Linked DNA regions of Homo sapiens. The protein of the gene in region 1 interacts with the protein of each later gene in a pairwise test. Each region holds a gene or a part of one and is shown in the gene's direction. Other genes may lie near its edges.

Region 1 (3,500 bases):
ATTGAGTCATGAGGGCGTTATTACATGAGGGAAGCCTGGTCCGTAGCTTTGGGCTCGGGCATCTTCCTCAGGATGTCAGTGGGTTTGTGTAGAGGATTCTCTGGGTCACCCAAACTTGCACACTTTGGGAACCCAGCAAACTTTCTTTCTTTTTTTAAAAAATCTATTCTTTTTTTCAAAGTTCAGTAACTTGCCCATCTTTTGTGGTTTGATTTGTTTTGTTTTGTTTTTGTTTTTAAGAGATGGGGTCTTGCTCTGTCACCCAGGCTGGAATGCAGTGGTGCCATCACAGCTCACTGCAGCCTTGAACTCCTGGGTTCAAGAGATCCTCCCACCTCAGCTTCCTGAGTAGCTAGGATCACAGGCGCATGCCACCATGGCCAGCTAATTTTAAATATTTTTTTTTGTAGAGACAGGGTCCCACTATGTTGCCCAGGCTGGTCTCAAACCCTTGGCCTCAAGTGATTCTCCTGCCTTGGCCTCCCAACGCGCTGGGATTACAGGCATGAGCCACCGAGCCCAGTCTAGAGAAATTTCTTAAATTGGGTCTCTTGGGTCCTGGCTTTTTGTCAACCTGAAGCACGTTCTAAGTCGATGGTAGAAAGTGGACACCCCCAGAAGACACTTTTGCCCAGAAATCTCTTTCTTCCTGACCCCTCTTCCCCAGAGTGCCCGGAATTCCACTGTCAGAAATGCATTGTCTGGGTTAAAAAACTTAACACCTGCTATGATTTCAACAGTGTCAAAACAGGATACGTCAAAACTGGGCGAGGAGGAAATGTATTTGGGTTCTAGGATAGTGAAAGCTCTATTTTTTCTACTTTTCTGTATTTTCCATATTTGGTACAATGAGCACGTACTTAGAACGGTTTTAGATTTACGAAAATATTGCAAACACAGTACAGATAGTTCTTGCGTCCCCCATGCCTAGTTCCTCTATTGCTAACGTCTCAACGTTAGTGTGGTGCGTTTGTTGCAATGGGTGAATGAATATTCGTGGGCTGTTATTAAAGTCAGTGCTTCACCCCTATTTCCCCAGCTTTCCTCTTACATCCTTTTTCTGTTCCAAGATTGCATCCAGGATGCCGCGTTACATTTAGTCTTCACACTTCCTTAGGTTCCTCTTGGTATGATGGTTTCTCAGATTTTTCTTGTTTTTGATAATCTTGACAGTTCGAGGAGTATTTGTCAGGCATTTTGTCAAATGTTCTTCAACTGGGGTCTCTGGTGGTTTTCTCATGATTAGTCTGGGAATGTGCTTTTGGGAGGAAGACCACAGAGATGATGTGCCAGTCTCAGAACATCGTACTAAGAAAAGGTTCTGCCAACTTGACTTACCACTGTTGCTGGTGACTTTGAGCCCCCGGCTGAGGTTACTCCTTTGTAAAGTTACTCTTTTTTTCTCCTTTCCATGCTGTATGTTTTAGAAGGAAGTCACTATGCTGCTCCAAGCAACTCAAGTTTGATGAATGGGGAGTTCCGCCCCACCTCCTTGAGGGCAGAGTAGCTACATAAATTACTTGGAATTTCTCAAGGAGATTTGTCTGTACTCCCAGTTTATTATATAAATAAATGATTTATTTATATTACAGGGACCCAGGGATCTTTACTGTATGCTTTGGGTTATAATCCAATGGTACTTTACTTTGTGGCTCAAGTATACTACTTTTAAATTGGAAAAAAAAAAAAGTACGGCCAGGTGCGGTGGCTCATGCCTGTAATCCCAGCATTTTGGGAGGTTGAGGCGGGTGGATCACTTGAGGTCAGGACAAAACCCTGTCTTTACTAAAAATACAAAAAATTAGCTGGGCATGATGGCGGGAGCCTGTAGTCCAAGCTACGCGGGAGGCTGAGGCAGGAGAATTGCTTGAACCTGGGAGGTGGAGGTTGCAGTGAGCCGAGATCGCGCCACTGCGCTCTAGCCTGACAGAGTGAGACTCTTTAAAAAAAAAAAAGGTAAAGCATTCAAATCATAGTATTTGAAGAAGGAGTCTCTATTGCCCTGACCTCGTGCAGGTAAGTTCACCCATGTGCCCAGCCCCAGGCCGGGATACAGCCCTGACTCATTCACGGCCTCTGCCCTTGAGGGGCCAGTCTGCCAAGGAAAAACCGACGAGGACAATGGATGACATTGCTGGCTATGATGGGGGCACAGATGTAGGGCTGGAGGTTGGGATTCTGGAATAGCTTCTTGGAGGAGGTCTGAGTCTTAAGGATGAGTAGGGCTTTGCTTGGGCACCTTGGAAAAGAGGTCACGCTGGGCGGGGGGAGTAGCATGACACAGGCTTGGAGGGGAAGGACCCTGCAGTGCTTCAGAGACCTAGCAGGTTTGTCAAGCTGGGTTAGGAGGGGTGGCCACGAGGTGTGTCGGGGAGGAGGGTGGAGAGGTCCCCAGGGGTGGGACCTGCCCGAGTCCTTTGCTTTTACAAGCTTCAGAGCTAAGAAGATGGATCTCTCTTCGGCCTATCAGCTCATTTTGCAGATGGGAAAACAGGTCCAGCAGGGCCCCTTACTTGCTCCAGGACACATGGAGAGATGGGGCAGGAGCTTGCTTCAGGTCCCCCTGCTGGCACACAGGTGTGTGGAATGATCCAGAAAGTGGGCAAATGAGTTCCTTCCCTGCCCCATGGCTGGGGTGGTGTGTCTGTCTGGGAGGCCCTGCCCTCATCCAGCCTCCCACCATTCATTTCTTCTTTATGGTCCAGTTTACGGGAAGCTTCCTCCTCCAGGAAGCTCTCCTGATTTGTCCTCCTTAGAACTCCTGGGGCTCTTTTCTCTGCTCCACTTTGGGGGCAGTGATTTGTGATTGAAAGGAACACAGGCCCATCTCCATTACTTACCAGCAGTGTGACTTGAGCAGGCGGGCACCTTTGTTATCTGAGCCTTGCCTTCCTCATCTGTAAATGGGGCCAGTGGTCCCTGCCTCAAAAGTGATCATTTGGAGGAGACCCTAGCGAAGCCGGGTGGAGGGCTAGCAGGTGAGTGCCTGAAGTGGGCTGTGGAAGAAGAACACAAGGCCCCCCGCCCCTTTTTTTTGAGACTGAGTCTTGCTCTATCACCCAGGCTGGAGTGCAGTGGCGTGATCCTGGCTCACTGCAACCTCTGCCTCCCGGGTTCAAGTGATTCTTGTGCCTCAGCCTCCCAAGTAGCTGGAATCACAGGTGTGTGCCATCATGCCCGGCTAAGTTTTGTATCGTTAGGAGAGATGGGGTTTCACCATGTTGGCCAGGCTGGTCTTGAACTCCTGACCTCAAGTGATCCACCAGCCTCAGCCTCCCAAAGTGCTGGGATTATAGGCGTGGGCCATAGTGCCTGGCCCCACTCCTCTGTTGAAAGTTCATCTGTTTGGGGTTGAAAAATGGGTCCAAACTGCCAGGTGGGGAAAACCCTGGGTGAGAATCTGTTAGAACTTGCCACCTTTATGTCCAGTGCCCCTGGGCTGGACAGAGAGGCCACGTTCTCTGCCACTGCAGCTCTGTGCGCTTCACGGAGGGGTGAGG
Region 2 (3,500 bases), on another chromosome or scaffold:
AAATCTGTTTTTCACATCCTTTGCCCTGCTGCACCAAACCTGCCCAAACATGTGACTCAGCTATTTTGCAGACCTAATGGCATCTCCAAGCAGCTCACCACAGTGATGAGTTCCTGGCCCACCTGCTCTTTTGTAAGGAGCAGGATGGTCTGTGCCTCATTGTTCTAAGAATTCCTCGAGTGAGATGTGGCTACTTGTGGAGATCCCACCATTGACATGCATGTCCCCAGTTAAGATGACCCAGATAAATGCTCTGACCTGGTTACCACCTTGTGGCAAGCCCTTGGATGCTGGTCATCTTCAGTCACTTCTTTGGGACTGCTGTCCAATAAATGTCACCACCTTTGTCCTCAATGCTGGCAGTTTTGTAAAGAAGCCAAGATTGGAGGCTTTCTATGCCTGGGGTGAGGCAAATTGATTAATAACTGTGGGAGGAGGGTGGAGGGTGCATAAGCCATCTGTCATTGCTAACCGCCTCCTGTGGACAATAGGACCATGATTTCCAAGTGTCCTTCACTAACTTAAGCTGGGGGGGAAAAAAACTATAAAGGCTACAGATATAAATCTGAATGGCATATTGTACATGTAGAAATTTGTGGTGTTCACTTTTTATCAGAACTAAATCCGGATTCTGGGGCTGGAGGACAGATAAAGCAGAAGTTGTTAATGGTTACGAAGCAAAGGTAAAAGGAAACTCTTAAAATAAGATTTAATATAGCTATTTAGCTTCTATGCAAATGAGGAATCTGTTCCCATTTTTTTCATGCATCTGTGCCATGGAGATGCTCTGGGGAATGAGAACTGTCTAATGTGTCTCTCACTTGGATGTTTGATTTTGTCTTATTTGACTTTCAGAAAATGGGATAGCATGCCCTGAGGAGGTCTGTAGCTATGCTAAAGAGAAACAATATGGTAGAGAAATGAGTACAGGTACCAGTTGTTCTGGTAGGAATGACAAGCTAGTCATTCCCTTAATTATTTAAAAAAAAAAAAGGAAGAGGAAGGATTAGACTTCACATGTGTTCAAATGTTGTGTAGTAGCTTTTGAGTCTCTTTTTTGTTAAATCAGCTTAATTGTAATCAGCAGGCGCACAGCCCATTTGCATGACATCAGTGCATTTAAAACATAGTTGTAATAGTGGAGACGATTGTTGATCCAGTCATCTGGCATTTTGTCAGCTGGAAAGCTGTTTCCTGGCCTTTCAGTCCCTCAGTACAACAGGGATTGATGGCTTTTGGTGTTGGAGCCCAGTGCTGCAGGGTCCTCTGGTGGCCTCTGAGTGAGCAAAGAAAGGCTTACGTCATGCTCAGCAAGATACATTTAGAAGCACTTGTCATAGTGCTGAGTGTGTTTTCTGCAGCTTTGAATGTTGGGGCTCCTCACGTGGCATATAGAGAGAATTCTTTGTTAACTGTTATGTTTGATTTTCTAGACCACCATATTCCCCAGTTATCCTTGATAACAGAGCATTTGCTCTGGCAGTTACAATAATTTTTGTCAGTGCACAGAATGCCTTTTAAATAGTGACTTGCTGGTTTTCTCTACAGCTCATAAGTCTATAGAGAACCTTGTGTTCATACCTTTCTCTTCTGCCCAGCAGATGGCTGTCTGAGTCATACTAGTATTACAAGACTACCAGCGGAGGCTGGGTGCAGTGGCTCACGCCTGTAATCCCAGCACTTTGGGAGGCCCAAGTAGGCAGATCACTTGAGGCCAGGATTTTGAGACCAGCCTGGCCAACATGGTGAAACCCCGTCTCTACTAAAAATACGAAAATTAACCAGTCATAGTAGCACATGCCTGTAATCCCAGCTACTCTGGAGGCTGAGGCACGAGAATCGCTTGAACCCAGGAGGCGGAGGCTGCAGTGAGCAGAGATCACGCCACTGCACTCCAGCCTGGGCAACAGAGGGAGACTCTGTCTCAAAAAAAAAAAAAAAAAAAATTACCAACAGAAGTACAGGATCCTGGTTTGGGTACCTTAGTTTAATAGAAACCCAGGTGGAAACCTAGATTGCAGGGCATTTGTTTGAGACTATTTAGCCACAGCAGGGCAAGCAGGAAGATGCAGCCTGTCACTGCTAACTCCTTAGTATTAAAACTGTCAAACATGGGAGGTAACTGCTGATGCATTTTTCAGTTGATAGTTTATATACTTTCTCTGAAGGATCCTAATGATAGTTAACCATTTCTCATTTTTATTTTGCTGGATTGTTTTCTGTTTTTTGCTTCAGCATTCTTGCTTTTGCTGTGCTTACTTTTGGAGTTTTGATTCCCTGTGTCACTGTTTTCTTTCGCATACACCTCTCAGGTTTACACAGTAAACAATGTGAATGTGATCACCAAAATACGCACAGAACATCTGACCGAGGAGGAAAAAAAGAGATATAAAGGTAATCACCACCACCCTCCCACCTCCTGTTTTGTTGTTATTTTTTAAGCCTAGAGGGAACTCTTTGTTGGCTCTGTTAAGTTTAGGGTTAATGTGATTGGGTTGTGTTAAGCCTAACCCTAACTTCTTCTCTCTCTCTCTCTTTTTTTTTTTTTTTGAGGCAAAGTCTCGCCCTGTCACCCAGGCTGGAGTGCAGTGGCACGACCTTGGCTCACTGCAACCTCTGCCTCCTGGGTTCAAGTGATTCTCCTGCCTCAGCCTCCTGAGTAGCTGGGATTACAAGCACCCACCACCACGCCCGGCTAATTTTTTGTATTTTCAGTAGAGACGGGGTTTCACCATGTTGGCCAGGCTGGTCTCGAACTCCTGACATCAGGTGATCCTCACCCACCTCGGCCTCCGAAAGTGCTGAGATTACAGGCGTGAGCCACCGTGCCTGGCCCCTAACTTCTTTTTTATAAAAATTTCTGGCCAGGCACGGTGGCTCATGCTTGTAATCCCAACACTTTGGGAGGCCAATGTGGGCGAGTCACCTGAGGTCGGGAATTCAAGACCAGCCTGACCAACATGGAGAAACCCCATCTGTGCTAAAAAAAAATACAAAATTAGCTGGGTGTGGTGGCCCATGGCTGTAATCCCAGCTACTCAGGAGGCTGAGGCAGGAGAATCACTTGAACCTGGCAGGCGGAGGTTTTGGTGAGCTGAGATCGTGCCATTGCACTCCAGCCTGGACAACAAGAGTGAAACTCCATCTCAAAAAAAAAAAAAAAATTTCCTGGCTGAGCACGGTGGCTCACACCTGTAATCCCAACACTTTGGGAGGCCAAGGTGGGCAGATCACTTGAGGCCAGGAGTTTGAGACCAGCCTGGCCAATATGGTGAAACCCTATCTTTACTAAAAATACAAAAATTAACCAGGCGTGGTGGCGCACTCCTGTAGTCTCAGCTACTGGGGAGGCTGAGGCAGGAGAATCGCTTGAACCCCAGAGGTGGAGGTTGCTGTGAGCCAAGATTGTCCCACTGCACTCCAGCCTGGGTGACAGAGCTAGACTCTGTCTCAAAAAAAAGAAAAAGGAAAGAAAATTTCCTTAGTCTGACTCATTCTTG
Region 3 (2,243 bases), on another chromosome or scaffold:
TTGACAGTAGTGATAGGAAAAGCCCAACAGGGCAAGACACAGAAATAGAAGATATGCCGACACTTTCTCCACAGATATCCCTTGGAGTTGGAGAACAAGGTGCAGATTCTTCAATAGAGTCCCCTATGCCATGGTTATGTGCCTGTGGTGCCGAATGGTACCATGAAGGAAACGTCAAAACAAGACCAAGCAATCATGGGAAAGAGTTATGTGTCTTAAGTCACGAGCGACCTAAAACCAGAGTTCCCTACTCGAAAGAAACTGCAGTTATGCCTTGTGGCAGAACAGAAAGTGGGTGCGCCCCCACATCAGGGGTGACACAGACAAATGGAAACAACACAGGTGAGACAGAAAATGAAGAGTCGTGCCTACTGATCAGTAAGGAGATTTCCAAAAGAAAAAACCAAGAATCTTCCTTTGAAGCAGTCAAGGATCCATGCTTTTCTGCAAAAAGAAGAAAAGTGTCCCCCGAATCTTCCCCAGATCAAGAGGAAACAGAAATAAACTTTACCCAAAAACTGATAGATTTGGAGCATCTACTGTTTGAGAGACATAAACAAGAAGAACAGGACAGGTTATTGGCATTACAACTTCAGAAGGAGGTGGATAAAGAGCAAATGGTGCCAAACCGGCAAAAAGGATCCCCAGATGAGTATCACTTACGCGCTACATCCTCCCCTCCAGACAAAGTGCTAAATGGACAGAGGAAGAATCCCAAAGATGGGAACTTCAAAAGGCAAACTCACACAAAGCATCCAACACCAGAGAGAGGCTCAAGGGACAAAAATAGGCAAGTGTCTTTAAAGATGCAGTTGAAGCAGTCAGTTAATAGAAGAAAGATGCCAAATTCTACTAGAGATCACTGTAAGGTATCCAAAAGTGCTCACTCCCTACAGCCTAGCATTTCACAGAAAAGTGTTTTTCAGATGTTTCAGAGATGCACAAAGTAAGGCCTGGTAAAGGGAGTGCTTTGTGATCTAGTAAAGCTGGAATGTGAAGCTCTTTCCTATCATGGAATCTTCATCCATGTGTCATTCATGCTGCTCTCTAGGCACACTCATTGTCCTTAATGAAGGTCTGTGTGATTGTAAGGACTGCATAGACACATGAGCTTCTGCACAGCTCAGCGGTAAGCAGGGGTCCCCTGTCGTTTCCCTTCTTAATAACAGATGTGTATTAAGCTTTACAATTCTTAGAGATATCTTAAGCTTTGGCCAACTCCAGGAAATCTTCAAGTGCCATTGTCTTTCCAAAAACTGCATGTTTTATGGCCTTTGCTCACCTTTTTGTCGTGACTGGTAATCAAAGCAAGATTATACTATTCTGAGTGATTAAGGAACCCATGCAGGGTTTAAAATCCATTTTCTTGCTATTGTCCAATGTTTACAGAGTACTCAAAAGGTTTTCCTAAAGTAATCTAATTTCCATCTCCAATTTAATTCAATTTTCAGCATTGTAGCATTTCCTTTGGTGTTTGTTTTTTTTTTTTAGACGGAGTTTCAAAATTTGGATTCATATTCATATGTGGGAAATCCCAGATTTTTTTTTTTTTTTTTTTTTTTTTTTTTTTTTGGAGACAGAGTCTTGCTCTGTCACGCAGGCTGGTGTGCAATGGCGCGATCTCAGCTCACTGCAACCTCCGCCTCCCGAGTTCAAGCGATTCTTCTGCCTCAGCCTCCCGAGTAGCTGGGATCATAGGCATGTGCCACTACACCCAGCTACCCAGCTAATTTTTTTTTTTTTTTGTACTTTTAGTAGAGATGGGATTTCACCATGTTGGCCAGGCTGGTCTTGAACTCCTGTCCTCAGGTGATCCACCTGCTTCGGCCTCCCAGAGTGCTGGGATTATAGGCGTGAGCCACCACGCCCGGCCTGTTTCCTTTGGTTTAAAGTGGATTCGAATCAGTGTTAAATCAGAAAATCAGGGTTTTCTAGGAAATTGGGAATTAGTTGCCAGAAAGGAAACTGAACTATGCAGAAGGAGTTAAGAGCTGGGATGAGGCTGGATGGGGTGACTGACAGTCCAGATCATTGAAACAGATTGGGTCGTCGGAAACTGGTCCAGATGAGGCTGGATGGGGTGACTGACAGTCTGGATCATTGAAACTGATTAGGTCGTCAGAAACGGGTCCAGACGAGGATGAGGCTGAGGCTGGATGGGGTGACTGACAGTCTGGATCATTGAAACTGATTGGGTGGTTGGTCAGAAACGGGTCCAGATGAGGATGAGGCTGAGGCTGGAT
Region 4 (3,500 bases), on another chromosome or scaffold:
CTACAGGCGCTTGCCACCACACCCGGCTAATTTTTGTATTTTTTTTTTAGAGATGGGGTCTCACTATTTTGCCCAGGCTCGTGTTGAACTCCTGAGCTCAAGTGATCAGCTTGCCTTGGCCTTCCTAAGTGCTGGGATTACAGCGTAAGCCACCCTGCCGGGCCTACTGGGAGCTTTTTAAAACAGTAGAACCTTCAGGTTCTTCTGTGTACTGATAAGAACTCTTACTGTAGAGATATGCTGTATATATACAGAAACACAATATTACATTTGTGTTGTGGTTTACAGTTTACAGAGAATTTTGACTAATGTTATTTGCTATTATATTACACAATAAACTATTCCTGGAGTTTAAATGATTTGCCTGAAGCATCATTCAGCTGGTGGGTAAAGTGGAATCAGGAGATTGTTGACAATGATGGTGTTCTTTCATGTATGAAGATAATGCAGTGGCTTTACCATCAATTAAATATAGTTACTGCCTTTAAATGACCTTGTCAGTAAGACTAGATGATCCCACAAGATTCCTTCTAGTTTTTAACATTTTGTGATTCTCGAGTCCTAGACTTTCATCAGAGTATCTACTCTCCTTGTTTAATATGTGCATGAGAGCTGGTGAGTCTGAGGGATGAATTGGGTAGAGAAGAGCAGTTAGCAATATCAGATCATTCATTTGGATTGTTACTTTCTTTGTATGTCTCACTTTGGGCTGGGGAGTAGGGAGGAGAGAGGTGATGTAAGTGAAATAAGAAACTTTAAGAACTTTATTGGGAGGCTGAGGCAGGAGGATGGTGTGAACCCGGGAGGCGGAGCTTGTAGTGAGCCGAGATTGCGCCACTACACTCCAGCCTGGGCAACAGAGCGAGACTCTGTCTCAAAAAAAAAGAACTTTATCTTCTCTGTTCATTTATACCTTCAGAATATTCTTTTCTTTCAGGAAGCCTTTATCAAATAAAAATGGAGACTTCACAATGTAAATGAAGATTCCTACTCAATTTTTTTTGGGTGGATTAAGTAGCTAGCTAGTACGGTTAAAGTGTAGTGCGATTGGTAAACAGTTGACTTTTCTGCACCTGTAAGATTATCTCCCTGGTAATAGGTAATCATAGCATGTTATTACATGTTAATAAACTTTGATTTCATAATTATTAGAAAGACTGTTGTTTTTTACTCTTTGTATAAAAATATGATACAATTATAATGAGCATTGGAAAATCCAATAAATTGCCCTTTATAGTGGTATCCAAGGAACTAGTTACTAATACTTAATGGAGGAAAAATGATAAAAACATACACAGATGAATTTTATTGTTTTTGCTGGCATTAAGAATTGTACTATACCTTATGTTAGTATAGCATTTCACATTTGTAAATAATAACTATATTTATCATTTGGTTCTCATGACAACTGATAAGTTGGTGTGTTAGGAAGTAATAACTGCTTTATATTTTATTTTATTTTATTTTATTTATTTATTTTTGAGACAGGGTCTTGCTCTGTTGCCCAGGCTGGAGTTCAGTGGCACAGTCATGGCTAAACTGAAGCCTAGACCTCAGCCTCCCAAGTACTTGGGACTACAGGTGTATGTCATGACACCCAGCTAAATTTTTAAAATTTTTTATAGAGATGGGGTCTTGCTGTGTTTCCTCAGGCTGGCCTCGAACTCCTGGACTCGTGGCCCTCCCACCATGGCCTTCCAAAGTGCTGGAATTACAGGCGTGAGCCATCGCTTCCAGCCAATCATTGCTTTTTGGATGAATATGCTGAGGCTAAAAAAAAAGTTTAAAAAGTTAAATTTCCAAAGTATGTGGCTAGTTAGTGGCCACAATTAGAACTACAACTAAAACCCTTATTTTTGTTCCTATGTCAGTATTCTTTTCCCACCAGACTTCTTACTCTTCATGTACAATGGAACATCATTAGTTAAGAGCTGTATGTGAAGGATTTGAATTTACCTGTTTGGAATGTGTTAAACTTTTGTACCGTGTAGAGGTAAACTTGTCAGTTTTTTCCTTTGTGTTAAAATGGTAATCTCACTGCAGTGGCTATTGGTAGGTGATATTTAAATTTGTAAGCATTGTACCACAGAATAGTTATTCTCCTGTCAAGGATAAAGCAAAAGTTGATTTCTTATCTGGAAAAGTACATTGGTGAAATGTAGATATTTATTTTTTTGAAAATTTTGAATTTAATTCTGTTGCTTTTACAGATGAAGTTTGTGTTTCCCTTTTATAAAAGCTTAGTCTTCAAAAATTTACATTTTTTGAGGATATAAATGAGGATCTAATTTCCAAAATATATATAGATTGGGTATCCCTAATTCAAAGTTTGAAATGCTCCAAAATGGGAAACTTTGAGCCACCTACATTACTCAACAGAAACATTCACTGGAGTATTTCAGATTTTGGATATTTGGATTAGGGATACTCAACCTGTATCATGATATTTTATTATTTTTGTATTAGATCATAAGCTCTACCATTGAAAAAAACCCAAAGATATTAAAAAGCCCTCCTTAGTGGATGCTTCAATTCATACATTTAAACAACTTTTTTAGGGAATGTATAATGTAAAACCATACGTCAGATGGTTTTTAAGTTATAAGGAAGACTAGCATGGTTTTTAAGTTATAAGGAAGAGTAGCATTTGTTGATTTAGTCTTGACATTTCTTTTTTCTTTTTTTTTTTGAGACGGAGTTTCCCTCTTGCTGCCCAGGCTGGAGTGCAATGGCGCAATCTTGGCTCACTGCAGCTTCCGCCTCCTGGGTTCAAGAGATTCTCCTGCCTCAGCCTCCCAAGTAGTTGGGATTGCAGGCATGCACCACCACACCTGGCTAATTTTGTATTTTTAGTAGAGACGGGGTTTCTCCATGTTGGTCAGGCTGGTCTTGAACTCCAGACCACAGGTGATCTGCCCGCCTCAGCCTCCCAAAGTATTGGGATTACAGGCATGAGCCACCACGCCTGGCCGTCTTGACATTTCTTAAATCTACAGTTCACTCACAGCACATACTGGCGTACCTACTATGTGCCAGACATATTTCTAGGTGCTGGGAGTACAGTGTTGAGATGACAGATATGAAGCCTTTCCTCTTGGAACCTGGAGTTTAGTGGAATCACTAACATTAACAAGGGCATAGAACTTTATCTTCTCAGGTTGTAATTTTGCGGAGTGTAATTAATTATACCTCTCCTTTTTCTGGGGTTTGAACAAATTATGCAGAACACACAAGGAACCAGGTGAGTGTTGTTTCAGTTATGTACTGCTGTGTAGCAAACAGCCCTAAACCAAGTGACTTAAAACAACCATTTTCTTTGTTACAGTTTTGCTTTCCTGGGTTGGGCTCAGTTGGGCAGGTTTTGCTGGTGATCACTCTAATGGCTGCTTTTCTCTCCAAGTAGCCTTTCCAGCAGAGTTGCTGGCCTTACCTGGTAGCTGATGGCTTAGGGCTCACAAGAGTACAAAACAGAAGCAACCAGATCTTTTTTTTTGAGAGGG
Region 5 (3,500 bases), on another chromosome or scaffold:
AAGGAATTTCAGAAAACCAGAGAGAGATGAGGATAAATAAAGTCTCAGATGTGGAAAAGCTTGGGGTGCTCAAAGAATAGGAAATAGTCAAGTGTACCTGGACGATACCATTTTTGCTTTTAGACATGCTGAGAATTTTTGACATTTAAAAAATGTTAAAGAGGGAAAATAAGCTGCTTAAGTATACTACATTTTGCATTTGAGTTAGTCTTATATTTATTTACATACTTATCATAAAACATATTCTTGTCTCTAGTTCATGACTTAATTTTAAATAGGAAATAAAATACCTTGAGAAGAGATTCTGCATGTCATTATGTAACTATGGTACTTAGTTTTGCCAGTCAAAACCACACATTGCCACGTGAAGGCCAGTAGTTTATTGAGTACTCAGGGAACAAAATTAGGTGGATTTTTTTCTGTTTTTTGTTTTTTGGGGTTTTGGATATTATACAGAGAGTGTAAAATTGCAATTTTTTTCTTCAGGAGACTCAGACTTGACCCTAAAATATGCATATAAACTTGAAGGCTCAAATAATGTTTTTTCCTAACCTGGAGGAAGAATTGTGAGAATAATGCTTTGCATAGAATCCTCTTCACCTTCTTTGCATGTTTCTTTTGGATCAGGCATAAAATAGGGGCCTGGTTTTGTTAGAGTGGGGGAAATAGTTGATGATATAATCACCCATTCCCTCTTAGTTGCAAATGGTATTGAAATTACAGAAAGTCATCTGACCACTAGTTGAGGTCACTTCTTTTCCCATTCCTGCCATTCCCCCATGTCTGGTATAACATTTGGCAAAATTGGTAACTGCTCTTGAGGGTTTTCATTTGTTTCTGTGTGTTCCTCTGAAATGTCATGTTTCTGGGGGAAGCAAGAACAACAGTACAATTTTCCACATTGAATCAGATGTTCATGTGATCCAAGCGTGCTTGGAAAAATCTTACTGCTTAGGATTCTATACAACATAGCTCTCTTGTGCAGTCTGTAGTTAGACAGTTAAAGGGCCCATGCCTCACCTGCAGGGTAGCCCTTCTGAGTGCGGTGGAAGCAGAGCTTTCTTGGAAAGTGAGACACCACTTGATCAGATCCATTGTGGAATTGAACAAGATGTAAGACAGAAGCATGGAATTCTGAAAAGTCAGACAATGCATTAGTGCACTCACATTGTCTTATATTTAGGTCTGTCAGGTTGTGTTATAATTTTAAAAATTAATTTCAAAAGCGATACATACTTATTATAGAAAATTTGTGCAAATACAGGAAACAATAGAAATACAGGGAAGAAAATATAGTCCATCTTAATTCTCCCTAATTTTCCTTGCATCTTAGCATTTTAGTGCTTCAGGATGGTATTTATTTTGGAACTTTAGTACATACAGGAACATAGAGAGACTACAGTATATATGTATATGTGTGTTCATACGTATGTAGTCAGATATCAGAAAAAATCATATTCTTTAAAACTTATTTTAAAATTACGGATATCACTTAGAGATACTGATGTTAGTATTTTGATATTTGACTTTTCAGTCATATATATACTTCTGTTAAAAAAACAAAAAATTCAATATGAACATATGGTTTTTATAAATTCTTCATCCACATACACTAAAATTTATTCCTTTTTTTTTTTTTCTCTTGAAATGGAGTCTCACTCTGTCGCCCAGGTTAGAGTGCACTGGCGTGATCTCGGCTCACTGCAACCTCCATCTCCTAGGTTCAAGTGACTCTCCCGCCTCAGCCTCCCGAGTAGCTGGGATTACAGGTGCATGCCGCCACTCCTGGCTAATTTTTTTGTATTTTTAGTAGAGACGGGGTTTCGCCATGTTGCCCAGGTTGGGCTCGAACTCCTGGGCTCAAGCGATCCACCTGCCTTGGCCTCCCGAAGTATTGGGATTACAGGCATGAGCCACCGCGCGCGGCCAATTTATTCTTTTTAGTATACAATACTGTAAGTTTTGACAGATGCATAGTTTTGATAGATGCACAGTTTTGATAGATGCACAATTTTCCAGAGTGGATGTGCCATGTTGCATTACCACCAGCAATGTGTGAGAGCTCCACAGATGGGAACTCATATTGTATCTTCAGAGTGTGGCGTTGTCAATTTTTCTTTTATTTCAGCCATTCTAATAGGTGTGTAGCACTATCTCATTGTGGTTTTGAGTTCCCCTCATGACTGAAGTTGTTAATTATCTTTTCCTGTGCCTTTTAATAATATATTCATGTTCTTTGTGAAGTTTGCCCATTTAAAAAATACTGGGTTGTTTTATTATTATTAAGCTTTGAGAGGTTTTATGTTTGCCAAATGAAAGCTCTTTGGCAAATATGTGATTTGCAAATGTTTTCTTCCTGTCTGTAGTTTATTTTATCAATAGTGTCTTAAACAGAGCAAAAGTTCATTTTGATGATACAAAATTTACCATTTTTCTTCTTTTTATGGAACCTCCTAGAAGTTTTAAAGTTTTAGGTTTTACATTTTTATCTATAATCCTTTTTTTCTGGTATATGTTGTGCAATTTTCCCTGCACCGTGTCTTGAAAAGATTGTCATTTTGCCATTGAATTACGTTTGCACCTTTGTCAAAAATCAATTGACTACATTTGTGTGTCTGTTTCTGGATTCTGTTCTGCTCCACTGATGTGTGTGTCCCTTCACAGGTACCACACATTGTTGATTGCAGCTTTATAGTAAATCTTCGAAGCAGGTAGTGAGAATCATCTAACTTTGTTCTTTTTCAAAATTTGTTTATGCTATTCTAATTACTTTTCCTTTTTGTTTAAATTTAGAATAATCTTGTTAATATCTACAGATAATTGTACTTGGATTTTTTAGTAGAATTTAATTGAATCTATAAAACGATTTGGGGAAAGTTGGACATCTTAACAATATTTACTTTTCCAACCCATGAACATGACATATCTCTTCATTTATTTAGATTTTTAAATTTCTTTCATTGATGTTTTGTAGTTTTCAGCATATAGTTTGTGCGTGTATTTTGTTAGGTTTATACCTATTTTATTTTTGATTAGTGCTATTGTGAATGGTATTTTTAATTTTTTTTTAGAAATTTTTATTTTCTTAGTCCATTTTGTGTTGCTATCACAGAATACCACAGACTGGGTAATTTATAAAGAAAAGAAACTTATGTCTTACAGTTCTGGAGGCTCAAAAGTACAAAAGCATGGTGCTGGCATCTGGTGAGAGCCTTCTTGATGCACCATAGCATGGTGGAAGGCATCACAGGACAAGAGAGGCATAAGAGAAAGAGCCAAACTAGCTTTTATGACAGACCCACTCTTGTGATAACTAACTCTCCTGTGATAATCTGTTAACACATTAATCCATTAATGGCAGAATCCTCATGACTCAATCACCTCTTAAAAGGCCTTACTTCTTAATACTGTTAGATTGGGGATTAAGCTTCCACATGAATTTTAGAGACAAAAACATTCAACGGCAGTGACCCTTTTATATTTAATTGACATTTTAATTG
Region 6 (3,500 bases), on another chromosome or scaffold:
TTCTCCTGCCTCAACCTCCCTAGTAGCTGGGATTACAGGTGCATGCCACCACTCCCAGCTAATTTTTTTTTGTATTTTTTTTGGGTGGAGATGGGTTTACACCATGTTGGTCAGATTGGTCTCGAACTCCTGACCTCAAGTGATCTGCCCACCTTGGCCTCCCAATTTCTTTTCATTTGTTTTGGTAGTCTTATTTTTTTCTTCCACATAAATATTAAACTTGTTAAGTTTAATAAGAAGTTTCATTGGGGCCGGGCATGGTGGCTCACGGTTGTAATCCTTGGACTTTGGGGAGGCTGAGGATGGTGGATCATCTAAGGTCAGGAGTTTGAGACCAGCCTGGCCAACATGGTGAAACCCTGTCTCTACTAATAATACAAAAATTAGTTGAGTGTGGTGGCACATACTTGTAATCCTAGCTACTGGGGAGGCTGAGTCACAAGAATCGCTTGAACCTGGGAGGTGGAGGTTGCAGGCGAGATCATGCCACTGCACTCCAGCCTGGGCGACAGAGTGAAACTGTGTCTCCAAAAAAAAAAAAAAAAAAAAAAAAAAGACATTTCATTGGGATTGTCATTAGAATTGCTTTACTTTGGGAAAAAGAAGTATCTAAGTTTATTTAGTTTTCTCACCCAGGAACATGATATGTTTTTTACATTTATTTAAGCTTTGGCCCATATTGTTCAGGATAGCTTTATAATTTTCTTCCTGTGTTTGAATTTAATTTCAGATAATTTATATTTGTGTGATTTACGTTGTGTTTTCTAATCCTAGTTATTGCTTGTATTTAGGAATGCAGTTATATGTATTTTGCTTGATTAGAAGAATTTTGGCTGGGTGTGGTGACTCACGCCTGTTATCCCAGCACTTTGGGAGGCCAAGATGGGAGGATCACTTGAGCCCAGGAGTTCGAGACCAGCCTGGGCAACATAGTGAGACCTCATCTCTATATTTATTTATTTATTATTATTATTTTTTGATACTGAGTTTTGCTCTTGTTGCCCAGGCTGGAGTGCGATGGCGCCATCTCGGCTCACTGCAACCTCTGCCTCCTGGGTTCAAGCGATTCTCCTGCCTCAGCCTCCTGAATAGCTGGGATTATAGGCATGTGCCACCGCGCCCGGCTAATTCTGTATTTTTAGTAGAGATGGGGTTTCTCCATGTTGGTCAGGCTGGTCTCAAACTCCTGACCTCAGGTGATCCGCTTGCCTCGGCCTCCCAAAGTGCTGGGATTACAGGCATGAGCCACCGCACCCAGCTGATGGCTGGTTTTCTAGGTGTCAGTGTTTGGTACTTGTTACAGTTGAATGTTAACACTTAAAATTTTTCTTTTCTCTCGGATTTCTCTCCAACATATAAGTAGTTGAACAAAGTGAGAAATTTTATTTCATTAAAAATTTTTTAAATACGAGCAGTCTTCTGAACAAGAATAGTTTCAGACCAACTCTGTTTTAGAATAGCTTCTGATGGCATTGGCTACCTTTTTTAAAACCACATTTGATATTATATTAAAAAGTGTCAACAGATAATCTGAAGTTTGGCAGTTTGGTTTGGTTTTGTACAAAAATTGGTAGCAGACATAAAGTTTAAATTTTTAAATAAACCTCGATGATTCATTTTTAGGGAGGAATTACCACGTGGATGATTGCAATCATGCAATGTTCTTCCCATTTCTTCCCAAAAAGTTTCTTCCCAAAACATTTTCTCTTACCTCTTTGTAGCCAGTTGTCTTCTTCAATACCGAGAACTTGTCAACCACTGATCTGTTTTCGGTCACTATAATTTTGCCTTTTCTAGGATTTTGAGTAAATGGAATCATACTGTCTGCAGTCTTTTGGGTGAGGCTTCTTTTAGCGTAATGCTTTTGAGATCCATTCATGCTGGGTATCAGTACTTTGTTCCTTTTCATTCCTGAGGAATACTGCATTGTACACCAATTTGTTTATCCATTTATAAATATCTGCAGACATTTGTTGTTTCCAGTTTTTGGCCATTACGAATAAACATTTGAGTACATGGCTCTTTGTGAACATGTTTTTCTTGCCCTTGGGTAAATGAGTGGGATTGTTGCATCATACAGAAAGTATGCATTTTAACTTTTTAAAAATCTGCTGGGCGGATTGCTTGAGCCCAGGAGTTTGAGACCAGCCTGGGCAACATGGCAAAACTCCGTCTCTACAAAAAATACAGAAATTGGTCGGGTGTGGCCTGTGCCTGTAGTATCAGCTACCTGAGAAGCTGATGGAGGATTGATTGGGCCTGGGAAGTTAAGGCTGCGGTGCTGTGCTCACACCACTGCATTCTAGTGTGGGTGACTCTGTCTCAAAAAAAAAAATTTTTTTTTTTTCAAAGTTGTACCATTTTGCATTTCTACCAGCATTGTATGAGTTTCAGTAGTTCCTCATCCTAGTCAGCACTTGATACTGTCTTTGATTTTAGCCATTCTAATTGGTAGGTACAGATATTTCATGGTACTTTAATTTTTACTTCCTTAATAACCTACAGTTTTAAGCACATTTTAATGGACTTATTTATTGTCCATATAATCTTTGGTGAATATCCAAATCTTTTGTTCATGTTTTAAAATTGGATTGTTTTCTTATTGAGTTTTGAGAATTCTTTATGTATTCTGGATATAAGCCTTTTATGAGATATATACTTTGCAAATATTTTCTCCCGGACTGTAGCTCCCCCACCGCCCCCCAAAAGATGTCCCAAAGAGAAGAAGTTTTGAATGCTGATGAAACCTGTTTATCAGTGTTTTTCTTTTGTGGTTCATGTTTTTTGAGTCCTAAGTCTTTTTCTAACCCAGAGTTCTAAAGATTTTCTCTGTGTTTTCTTCTGCATTATTTATAATTTTAACTCATACATTTAAACTTATTTTCAAGTTAATTTTTTAATATGCTGTGAGAAGTAAGTGTCATGATTTTTTTTTCATATGGATATTCTATTTTTGTAGCCCTATTTGTTGAAAATACTTTTGTTTCCTCCATTGAATTGTCTTGGCACCTTGGTAGAAAATCAGTTGACAGGCCAGGTGCGGTTGCTCATGCCTATTCTTTGGGAGGCCGAGGCAGGAGGCTCACATGAGGTCAGGAGTTCTAGACCAGCCTGGCCAACATGGCAAAACCCCGTCTCTACTAAAAATAAAAAATTAGCCAGGTGTGTGGCAGGTGCCTGTCATCCCAGCTACTCGGGAGGCTGAGGCAAGAGAATCACTTGAACCCAGGAGGTGGAGGTTGCAGTGAGCTGAGATTGTGCCACTGCACTCCAGCCTGGGCGACAGAGCGAGATTCTGTCTCAAAACAAACAAACAAACAAATCAGTTGACAGTATACATAGAATTCTATTTCTGGACTCTCCTGTGTTTTCTTTATGATTCTACCCTTTAAGTTTATTTGTTTTAACACTATGCTGTCTTGATTACTATAGCTTTAAAATAAAGCAGCTTTCAAACAAATTGAGTCTTTGATTTAGGATCTTGTAGTGCTTTGGAGCGG

Evidence for each region.
Region 2: the proteins of LAPTM5 (region 1) and ANKRD13A interact in a two-hybrid assay, tested with the Homo sapiens proteins (one large-scale study listed by BioGRID and IntAct).
Region 3: the proteins of LAPTM5 (region 1) and RNF168 interact in a two-hybrid assay, tested with the Homo sapiens proteins (one large-scale study listed by BioGRID and IntAct).
Region 4: the proteins of LAPTM5 (region 1) and WWP1 interact in a two-hybrid assay, tested with the Homo sapiens proteins (one large-scale study listed by BioGRID and IntAct).
Region 5: the proteins of LAPTM5 (region 1) and AIG1 interact in binary tests that used the Homo sapiens proteins (3 or more experiments, as listed by UniProt).
Region 6: the proteins of LAPTM5 (region 1) and SMURF2 interact in a two-hybrid assay, tested with the Homo sapiens proteins (one large-scale study listed by BioGRID and IntAct).

Annotation. Positions count from the first base shown.
Region 1 is NC_000001.11:30,751,275-30,754,774, reverse strand, and holds part of LAPTM5 (lysosomal-associated transmembrane protein 5), read left to right. Parts: intron 1-2,414; exon of another isoform or gene 2,415-3,500. UniProt on the Homo sapiens protein: May have a special functional role during embryogenesis and in adult hematopoietic cells.
Region 2 is NC_000012.12:110,023,430-110,026,929, forward strand, and holds part of ANKRD13A (ankyrin repeat domain-containing protein 13A), read left to right. Parts: intron 1-616; coding exon 617-683; intron 684-2,312; coding exon 2,313-2,394; intron 2,395-3,500. UniProt on the Homo sapiens protein: Ubiquitin-binding protein that specifically recognizes and binds 'Lys-63'-linked ubiquitin. Does not bind 'Lys-48'-linked ubiquitin.
Region 3 is NC_000003.12:196,470,526-196,472,768, reverse strand, and holds part of RNF168 (E3 ubiquitin-protein ligase RNF168), read left to right. Parts: coding exon 1-950; 3' UTR 951-2,243. UniProt on the Homo sapiens protein: E3 ubiquitin-protein ligase required for accumulation of repair proteins to sites of DNA damage. Acts with UBE2N/UBC13 to amplify the RNF8-dependent histone ubiquitination.
Region 4 is NC_000008.11:86,345,547-86,349,046, forward strand, and holds part of WWP1 (NEDD4-like E3 ubiquitin-protein ligase WWP1), read left to right. Parts: intron 1-3,500. UniProt on the Homo sapiens protein: E3 ubiquitin-protein ligase which accepts ubiquitin from an E2 ubiquitin-conjugating enzyme in the form of a thioester and then directly transfers the ubiquitin to targeted substrates.
Region 5 is NC_000006.12:143,067,389-143,070,888, forward strand, and holds part of AIG1 (androgen-induced gene 1 protein), read left to right. Parts: intron 1-3,500. UniProt on the Homo sapiens protein: Hydrolyzes bioactive fatty-acid esters of hydroxy-fatty acids (FAHFAs), but not other major classes of lipids. Show a preference for FAHFAs with branching distal from the carboxylate head group of the lipids.
Region 6 is NC_000017.11:64,652,308-64,655,807, reverse strand, and holds part of SMURF2 (E3 ubiquitin-protein ligase SMURF2), read left to right. Parts: intron 1-3,500. UniProt on the Homo sapiens protein: E3 ubiquitin-protein ligase which accepts ubiquitin from an E2 ubiquitin-conjugating enzyme in the form of a thioester and then directly transfers the ubiquitin to targeted substrates.